2 separate regions of the Homo sapiens genome follow, and region 1 is linked to region 2. Evidence: fine-mapped QTL for protein levels in blood plasma. Region 2 holds a variant in brackets. A gene starts in the other region. All regions are shown on their forward strands.

The links. PIP is the posterior inclusion probability: the model's chance that the variant is causal. Protein levels are from antibody-based Olink assays in UK Biobank. Linkage for the fine-mapping came from a reference panel and not from the study's own genotypes, which makes the PIPs less certain.
Region 1: CFHR5 starts here. The variant in region 2 is fine-mapped to the plasma level of the CFHR5 protein (UK Biobank, PIP 0.97).

The regions. Positions count from the first base shown.
Region 1 is chr1:196,974,960-196,980,346 of GRCh38, forward strand. It overlaps CFHR5 (complement factor H related 5), which reads left to right and starts at 2,597. Exons shown (of 10, transcript NM_030787.4): 1 at 2,597-2,763. The coding sequence starts at 2,706.
Region 2 is chr2:113,107,167-113,112,553 of GRCh38, forward strand. It overlaps a transcript of IL1RN not described here. Among named protein-coding and RNA genes, the nearest start is that of IL1RN, 18 kb to the right of the region's middle. The variant T/C (reference allele first, on the strand shown) is at 2,545.

The DNA of each region.
Region 1 (5,387 bases), not on the chromosome of region 2:
GTGCTTACAAATAAATAACATCCCCTGGATTCAGACAAACCAATGTTTAAAGGTCACAGAGATTAGAAGAAGCCAACAAAAGACTGAGATGGTGAAGCCTTTGAGACAGAAGAGAAACCAGGAGAATGTGGTGTTCCATAGACCATGTGAAGCAGGTATTTCCAAATGGAAGGGGAAAGTCATGAAATTTTTCTGAGTATTCAGTTTTGACCAATGGATTTGATTAGATTGAAGAAGGCATTGGTGACTGTTACAAGAGGGGTTTAAGCGTAGTGTTGGGAATGAAAAAATGAATTAAAGTAGAGATTGTAGATAACATTGGAGTCATCGTATTATAAAATGAGAAGTGAATTAGATTACTAGAAAGAGATTTGGGTTCTATGAACAATTTTTGAGCTTTTGTTGTTGCTCTTCATGATGAAAGATGTTTGGTATGTTTGCATATTGGTGGAAATAATTTGGAAAATGGAGAAATTAATGATACAGGTGAGAAGGAATAATTGAAAGAGCAAAATCCTTGCACAGAAAAGATGGGATCAAATCTGGTAGAGACCATAACAAGATAGGAGTAAAGATCAACATCCAGTGAAGCAAGAGACAATGCAGAAAAGGATGCGTGTGAACAGCAGGTAGTTTTCTTCTGATTGATTCTATATCTAGATGAAAAAATAAATGAAGTCATTAGCAAAGCACAAAGTGAGGATTGGTGGTTAAGGAGGGAGATAATGAAAACAGGAGAGGGGAAAAGCAGTGTGGAAATTATTTAGGACCGTGTTCATTAATTTAAAGCAAGGCAAGTCAGCACAGTTGCCTTTGTTTTTCTTGTAGACACACTCTGCTGCTTCAATTCAGGCACAGGGCAGGTAGAGAATTTATTTGCAAAGGATTGAGGTTTTCTAAGACTTGGATTACAGATAGAAAGGAACGAATGGGCAGGAGAGTGTGTGCAAGGGACTGACTGACAGTGATGAGCCATGGAATCTAATTTAGATGTGGTGGGAAGAGAGAAAATGAAGGGAAGAGAATAGTGAAAAAGTGTCAGGGTCATTGAATGTTTGGAACAAATTTAGTAGAGTAAGTGAGCTAAAAAGATTGTTGAAATGGTCTAGAGTGTGATGCTTAATATTTAGATACTTTAGGTAGTGTAGTAATTGGAAATGACAAGGTTTAGATAGACTAGAATCAATAGTGGAGACTACTAATAGCTCACAGGGACTTCTCTGGTTTCTTGATTGGACATAGCTATGTGCATTCCCATTGACTTCTGAACCACCATAAGTAAGTTTCCTCTTAGTGAGATCATTAGGCTGTTTCTGTAAATTTCCCCATTAAATGTTAAATTTCTCTCAGGCTGGGCACTTTGTTGCTTGCTTCAGCTAGTATCCTCTAGTCTTCTCTGATTGTTTCCCACTGTAATCTCTTTGTATTCAATAGGATCCTCGGGCATGGACCTTTCCAAGCTATAAAGTCACTCTTCTCCAGCAGGGGAGCAGAGCTTCCAGTCCACATAGCCTGCCTGCCCATCCAGGGTTCAACTTCTGAGCCACGGAATTGGGCTGCGAGACAGAGGTGGATGAAAGCATCCGCTCTCTTTTACTGAATTTTATGGAGACTTTCTGGAAAAAATATTTCCCAACATTATGCTGTTTGGCCAATTTCCAGAGACAACCAATGGTTACTTTTAAATTTTTATCCAGTTTTATTGCTGCCTTTTGGTTGGGAGTGAATATACCAAGACCCTCACATAGCCATTCTCGAAGTCCCACCTGAACAAAATGATTTTGAATTATAATTCTGTTCTTCAAACATTTCAGGAAACGTTACTTGGCAAAAATTATTCTTTTTTTTTTTTTTTTTTTTTTTGAGACAGAGTCTCGCTCTGTCGCCCAGGCTGGAGTGCAGTGGCGCGATCTCCACTCACGGCAAGCTCTGCCTCCCGGTTTTACGCCATTCTCCTGCCTCAGCCTCCCGAGTAGCTGGGACTACAGGCGCCCGCCACCACGCCTGGCTAAATTTTTTTTGTATTTTTCAGTAGAGACGGGTTTCACCGTGTTAGCCAGGATGGTCTCGATCTCCTGACCTTGTGATCCACCCGCCTCGGCCTCCCAAAGTGCTGGGATTACAGGCTTGAGCCATTGCGCCCGGCCAGCAAAAATAATTCTTGATTAGACCTTTTATAGTTTATGAAATATTAAAACTGTTAAGAAGGTACCTAATTCTTAGTGCCAGTTTTAAAAGGGAATTTACAACTACAAAAGTGATATTGTTGTATTAAGATGAGGACTGATGACTTGCACTTGCTTGCCTTTTGAAACAGCTGAACCCTTGGCTAGAAAAAAAAAAAAAACCCAGGGGGCCGGCGGTGGGGAGCTTCCTCTCTCCTCTAAACAGTCCATTTCTGATTGTTCCAAACTCAGAGACTCGGTGACTACAACAAGGAAATTGAACAGCAGTTATTTTGCTTAAATAAATATTACATAACGAGCTGAGAATATTATTGTGAAGACACTGATTAGATACTATTTGCTTATTTCACACAACCCTCCATGAACTTTGATGTTTTCCACAAAGGGCTTTACTAAACTAGCTTCCCCTTAGTACATTGAAATTCAAAGTCATGCTTGTAACTGTTAATGAAAGCAGATTTAAAGCAACACCACCATCACTGGAGTATTTTTAGTTATATACGATTGAGACTACCAAGCATGTTGCTCTTATTCAGTGTAATCCTAATCTCATGGGTATCCACTGTTGGGGGAGAAGGTAAGTTGAAAACAGATCCGAATATTTTAGTTCCTTTTCAAATGTATTTATTGATTGTGTGTGTGTATGCATACAAATATTTTTAAATGAATAAATAGCTGAGGATAATTTGAAGGGGTATCACAATATTCATCTATTTTCTGGAAATATTTTCCAACATGCAATTAGCAGGAAAATTGAATGAAATTAATTCTCTCCGTTCTCTAGTTTGCTAAGGGTAAATGGTCACCAAATAGATAATGTAAAGAGAAATCAAAGGAGAGAAAATCTGCTATAATAAAGATGACAAGGTGAAATATTAGTGTAATTCTGCATAAACTCTGCAATGCCACTGACTAGAAAAATCAACCCCAAAAGATTTGGCCACCTTCATTATGTTTTGAGAATTTTATTTTCATAGATTTGATAATTTACATTTTAAATGTTATTAAAATGAAGGAATTCTCATTTCAGCCTAATTATCATTCAACAGGGAAATATATTTTAATGAAACAATAGAAAATATTATTTTTATATATAAACCAGTGAACTGCCAAAAAATTGTTTCTTCTGAGCTCTTCCACAAATTTCAAAAGTGAAATAATATATCACTTCTTTATTAATACTATAAACTGATTCTTATAACATTATAAACTATCCCATTTTATTTCATGTGGAAATTAAAGCCACTATATCAAAAGGATTGCAAACAAAATCTCTAACAAGGTCTAGGATACTGATTAAACTATGTGTGTACGTGAAGTTTCAATCATTGTGCTATATACTCTTTGATTTCCAGAAAGTTTTTATTTTACTGCTTTACTGCTTTCTAATGTTTACAGATCTTTAAATTTTTTGAACACTTTCTTCTCAGTCCTGACATAAGAGAAAAATATGAACCATAAAATGCTTTCTTTTTAAGATATGCCCTTACAAATGTTGCAAAACATTATTTCTATGGGCCTAAAATTCATTTTATTTTGTTTTCACTTTTAGTACTGAGCTATAATCACAAGAGTGCGATTGCATGAGTGTATTTGATTTTTCTTAAGTCTGTGTTTATGATATTTATTAAGTGGCTTAAACATCTGTTACAAATGGCATTACACAAGGATTTCTAAAGGGGGGTGGAAGCAGAGGAAGATAAGTGAAAATTATGAGGATAATATGTAGAATTTTGACAATTCCTAACCCCACAAAACTTTCAAGCTTCAGTCCAGTCCCAGGATAAACTTTAGTGAAATTCTATTAAAAGTTGTCTAGGTGTTAAATGACCTGTAAGTGTGCATTACACTTTTGTTTTGGTGTCTATTTAGAAACTGGCCAAACAGCAGAAATAACAGACGAAAGCAACACTTTTGTACAAATAGAAAACTGCATGCTTCCAGTAGCAAAACATGAATCAAGCAATATATTGTGCTTCATGCTGTAGCAAAGAAGCTGGAAAGAATATGACAACGCCACCCACCCCTCACTACTACTTAGAGTGTCCTAAAAGAAAAGCAAAATGTAAATAGGCAAATAAATTGCAAGGTTTTATATATAGGTAATTGTCTGTGTGTGTGTGTGTGTGTGTGTGTGTGTGTACACTCATACATCACTTAATGATAGGAAAACGTTCTGAGAAGTGTGTCTATAGGCAATTTCGTCCTCCTGCAAACATCATAGAGTGTACTTACACAAACCTAGATTGTATAGCCTACTACCTAACTAAGCTATACGGCCTGTCACTCCTAGACTGCAAACCTGTACAGCATGTTACTGTACTGAATACTGTGGGCAACTGTAGCACAAATGTAAGAATGTGTTTACCTAAACATATAAAAGGTACAATAAAAATACAATATAAAATATTAAGAATGGCAGACTTGTATAGGGCTCTTACCGTCAATAGGGTTTGCAGGACTGAAAGTTGTTCTGGGTAAGTCACTGAGTGAGTGGTGTGCAAATATGAAGGCTTAGCACATTACCATACACTACTGTAAACTTCATGAACACTGAATACTTGAGCTAGGTAAATTTATTTTATTTATATATTTATTTCAATATTTTGGGGGGAGCAGGTGGTTTTTGGTTACATGGATAAGTTCTTTAGTGCTAATTACTGAGCTTCTGGTGCACCCAGGATAGACTAAATTTATTTTTAAAACTTTTCTTCAATAATAAATTAATTTATGATAAGCTTTCTACTTTATCAACTGAAAATCTTTTAACTTGTAACTCTTTTGTTTTAGCTTAAAACACACCTTGTATAGATGTACAAAATATTTTTTCTTTCTATCCTTATTCTGTAAGATTTTTATCTTTTAAATTATTTATTTATTTACCTTCTACACCTTTTTGTTAAAAGCAGACACAAACACACACATTAACCTCGGCCTACGGAGGGTCAGGATCATCAGTATCACTGTCTTCCTCCTCACTCTTGTTCCACTAGAAGGTCTTTAGGGCAGTAACATGCATGGAGCTGTCCTCTCCTATGATAACAAAGCCTTCTTCTGGAATAGTTCCTGAAGGACCCGCCTGAGGATGTTTTACAGTTATTTTTTTTTAATAAGTAGAAGAAGTGAACTATAAAATAATGATAACAACTATAGTACATTAAATACATTAACCAGTACCATGGTCATTTATTATCATTATCA
Region 2 (5,387 bases):
TTAATGTCTGAGACTATTCCAGAACTGATAAATAGATGAATCTACAGATCTCAGAAACACAGCTTTTACAAAGGATAAATGAAGAGAAATTCACCAGAGATACATTGTAATGAATCTGTAAATCACCAAAGCTAAAGATATTATTTCACAAGTGGAATGACAGCTGACTTCTCAACAACAACGAAAGCAAGGAGACAGTTGAAAGACATCTTGAAAATGGTGAGAGAAAAACTAACTGTTAATATAAAATTGTGTACCTATCAAAAATATCTTTTGGCCAGGCGTGGTGGCTCACGCCTATAATCCTAGCACTTTGGGAAGCCAAGGAACGTGGATCACTTGAGGTCAGGAGTTTGAGACCGTCCTGGCCAACATGGTGAAACCCCATCTCTACTAAAAATACAAAAAAAAAAAAAAATAGCCATGTGTGGTGGTGTGCACCTGTAATCCCAGCTACTTGGGAGGCTGAGGCAGGAGAATCGCTTGAACCCAGGAGGTAGAGGTTGCAGTGAGCTGAGATCATGCTGCTGCACTCCAGTCTGGGTGACAGAGTGAGACTGCCTCAAAACCAAACCAAACCAAACCAAACCAATCTTTCAAGAAGTACACCATAAAGACATTTCTGGATAAACAGTGAATGAGATTACTTCCTAAACGAATATGTAAGGATGTTTCTTTTTAAAATTTTTTTTGGGTGTATTCATCACCTCAAGCATTTATTCTTTTGTGTTGTTACAACTGATAAGAATATCTAAGGATGTTTCAAAAGGAAGAAAAATGATCCCTAAAGTCTGGTATATTAGTTTCTTATTAGTTGCTCTAAGAAATTACTGCAAACTTAGTGGCTTTAAAAAACACGAAATTATCTTTCAGTTCTGTAGGTCAGAAATTTAACCTCCTGATTTCTGGTCAGAAGTCTTACTGGGCTAAAATCAGGGTATCAGCAGGGCTGCTGGAGGCTCTGGAGATGATGTTTCTCTAATTTCTAGAGGCATTTGCATTCCTTAGCTAGTGGCTTCTTCCCACATCTTCAAAGCTAACAGTGGCAGTCGAGTCCTTCTCTTATCTTTTTTTTTTGGGGGGGGTTATAAATTTTTTTTATTATTATTATACTTTAAGTTTTAGGGTACATGTGCACAACGTGCAGGTTTGTTACATATGTATACATGTGCCACATTGGTGTGCTGCACCCATTAACTCATCATTTAGCATTAGGTATATCTCCTAATGCTATCCGTCCCCCCTCCCCCACCCCACAACAGTCCCCAGTGTGCGATGTTCCCCTTCCCTTCTCTTATCTTATCACTCTGACCTCTTCTGCCTCCTTTCTCTACTTTTAAGGACCCTTGTGATTAGATTGGGTCCACCTAAATAATCCAGGATAATCTCTTTATTTTAAGGTTAGCTGATTAGCAACCTCAATTCCATCTGTAACCTTAATTTCTTTTTTGCCATGTAACCTAACATAGTCACAGGCCCAAGGGAATAATAGGATGTGGGAATTGCGGGTGGTGGAGTAGGGGCATTATTCTGCTTACCACAGGGGACCTTGGATGTCAGTAAAAAATGGTGAGGAAGAAAACAGGAAACGTAGAATAATCTAAACAAATCTTTGAAAAATAAGTCGAAATGTGGGGTTAGAAAAAGGGCAGAACTAAAATGTTAAGACAAATTAAAATGTTAAGCCTATAAGTTGAGAGGGAGATGATCAAGGTTAAAAATACTCATAAATCATATTTTTTTGGGTAGGGGGTTAGATATTTATTAATTTTAGACCCTGAGAAGTAAAATAGTCATGACAAAAATTTAATAGTAACCACTAAAACAAGAGAAACAGAGTATATAACTTCTAAATCAATATGGGAAGGGGAATGGAATAAGAAAACAATAGCAACCACCAACACCCCACCCAAAATAAATAATAAGGTGAGAGAGAAAAAGAAGCATTGAAAAGGGGCTAAAATAAAATAAAAAATTAAGTCATGCCCGTAATCCCAGCACTTTGAGAGGCCAAGATGGGTGGATCACCTGAGGTCAGGAGTTCGAGACCAGCCTGACCAACATGGGGAAACCCCATCTCTACTAAAAATTCAAAATTAGCTGGGTGTGGGGGTGCATGCCTGTAATCCCAGCTACTCTGGAGGCTGAGGCAGGAGAATCGCTTGAACCCAGGAGGCAGAGGTTGTGGTGAGCAGAGATTGTGCCATTGCATTCCAGCCTGGGCAGCAAGAGCGAAACGCCATCTAAAAAAAAAAAAAAAAAAATTAAGATAGTAAAACAAATCCAAATACATTAAAGATTACAAAAAATGAAAATGAACTAAACTTCCTAGTTGAAAGACATATTGTCAGATTGGATTTTAAAATCTGGCAATGATATTTCCAGGACACAGTCCTAAAATATTAAACACAGAAAAGTTGAAAGTAAAGGGATGGAAGAACACAGTCAAACTAACTAGAAGAGAGCTGGGTTCACCCTTTTATATCAGAGCAGAATTTCACTGAGAAAACACTAACAGGAAGGGGGAAAGGCACAACATAGTGA[T/C]GAAGCACTTAATTCTCAACAAATGTATGACACTTCTAAACTATTATGACTGCAAAAAAAAAAAAAACCTCAGCATATATAAAATTTTGGAAGAGCCATGGCTATCAGCTGACATGCACTTACCATATTTGCATTGTCCTACTACAAACTTTACCCATATGACCAAGGTGCTGTCTTCATCCCCATTTTACAGATGGGGAAATTTCCCCATAGAGAAAAAGATTTGGGCCATGCCTTGGTTTCTTCTTGACTCTGCTTCCTGCTGATTGATCCTCACACCTCACCTGGAGACCTACTTCACATTATCCATCAGGATGAGAACTGGTGTGCCTTTACCAAAGGACCACAGTCACCTTCAAAACGTGTTTAGATAGATCTGGATGGAGACTTATGTGGTTGCAGATGAAAAAAAAGTCCCCATGGTATATCTGACTCCATGTCATTCACTGCATGAACACTCACACACATGCACACGTACACAGGCAAACACAATCCTGTTCTGGTCCGGCAGTAGTGCCAACACTCAAATCCCAGGTCCTACTCTGAAGCCTTTGAGGAAACCATTGTCATTCTGGGGTTTATGGGAATATTTCTTCTTGGTGCCCCTTGTTCCTCACAGAAGCTTTTTTTCTGTGCTGTGGGCTTGCTATCCTAGCTTTCCAAGCTATCCTAGTTTTGCAAATTTCTCTGATCAATCACATCAGGTTCTTGGATCATCCCAAAATTAAAGAGGTACGTTTTGCTGCAAGAGACAAAGACATTCACCTCTCACACAGTTTGAATTCCTGGGTAGAAACAGATTTCAATGCTGGCCAGCCTCTGTAGCTCCCAGTGCCCCCTCAATTATGACTCCCGAGGCATTGGAGCAGGATCCTCACCTTGCGCAAAGATAATTAGGTGTGCTGAAGAAAGCCAGACACTGCTCTTTCTTAGCTCTGCATCCTTAAAAAGTTACCACTACTCCTTCTCTTTGAACCTTTGACTTGTCAATGGTAAAGTGCCTATGATTCTTAAAGGGATAAAAACGCAACCTATATAAAGCACCTGGCATAGTGCCTGGCACAGGTGGGTGTTTAACAAATGTTAACTCCTTTCTATCCCACTGTGGGTGTCCATATCCTCTTGGGTAGGCTGCCTCTGGTTTCCATTGTGTCATCAGAGCCATACTAAATCGATGTGTTGGACATGGATCCCAAGAACTAATTTCTGGAATGAGTTATGCCTACCAACTTCCCTGATACTTACTTCTGTCTCTCCATTTATCAAATGGAAATGTTTGCATTTGGCCTCTGCCAGTTGGAGTAACCAAAAGGCTTAGAGGTTTTGGAGAGGTCCTACACTGCCATCTGTTTGACCACATACTGCCTTTCACGTGTAATAAGCATTGTTTCTTACATTTGTCTAGGAATTAGCAGTTCACAAAGCACATTCGCATATAAGGGCTTGTTTTGAATTGATCTTGGCAGCAATTCTATGAGACAAGTAAAAGGTAGGTCAAGCATTATAATCCTCATTTTAAATCTGGGAAAACTGAATCTCAAAAAGGTTGAAAGACTTGTCTAGGGGACAGTGTGTGGGTAAATGAGAAGTTAAGATTTGCTGAACTGGCATTTCCTGACTACATATCTAGTGTTTATTTATGGAGAAGGCACTACGGTGGCCAAGTGGCTCAGAGTCACACAGCTCTGTGCCTCAGTTTATTTGTCTGTAAAATGAAGATAATAATATATTCTGAATACTGTTGTGGAATTTCATTGAGATAGTTCACATAATGGCATGGATACTGTAGTACACCGCCTAGATTCACAACCCCACGACTATCCATGAGAATGGCCCATAGCTCAAGAGGTCACATTCTTTCCCCAGGTGAAGCCCGCATCCAATGACTGCTCAGTGTGGGTATATAAAGGCCTGGCTCCCTTGCCAGTGCCACCCTACCTCCTGGCGAATGGACTGAGGCTTGCATTATGACTGCATTGCAGCTCAACTGTTCTTTCCATTCAGTCTTTCCTTTACACTCACACAGGTGAGGACCCAGCCATTAAATGCCTCACATGATAACCTCTATTGCATGCTAGGCTTCGTGTGCACACACAAAAACCATCCTCTATCAGTCAGGTCCCTTACTTGCAGAGGCAAAGAGGCCAGTCTGGGTTAGATGTGCACCCTGTTTTTACAACAGAACGAGACAAACAGGTCCTCCTTAGGTGTAAGTTCATGGCCTTGGCCCCACCCCTGAAACTCAGCCATCTGAGACAGTTTTAGGCCTGAGGCAACCCCAGACTTTGGGTTGTTGTTTGCTGGGCACAGCCTCCTTTTGCCAATGTTGCAATCCTTTGTAAGAGACCACAGGTTGATCACCCGTTCCTGTTACTGAGCACAGAGAGGTTTGTAGGCCAGTCTCTCCAGGAATTCTGACGCACTGCAAAATCCCATGGTCTGAATGCTTCTACCTTCCCTGTGAAAGCCCCTGGCCTCAGAAAAGGAAGCTGGTTTAAGTGACCAACATTTGGGGCGGAGCTTCCGAGGGCCCAGCCACCGTGTTACATGCAACACTCAACAGAGATATTCTTTGGCTAGAGTTGTTTTTCTGGGTATAGGACCCTATAATTAAAATCAGCTCTCCAACTTCCCTTCCTCCAAAAAGTATACAATGTAAGGAGGAAAATGCAAATTGAAAAGTTGCTAGTCCTTCCCGCCAGAATGCCACCTCAAGCCTCCCCTGCAGGAAGTTCTGGAGTCCCCAACTCTGCCCCAAGCCTGAGGCCCTTGATAAGGTAAAGGGATGTGAGTGTGGAGGCCGGAGCCCCCCTCGCCCTGTAGGCTGCTCCCCTTGCTTTTCC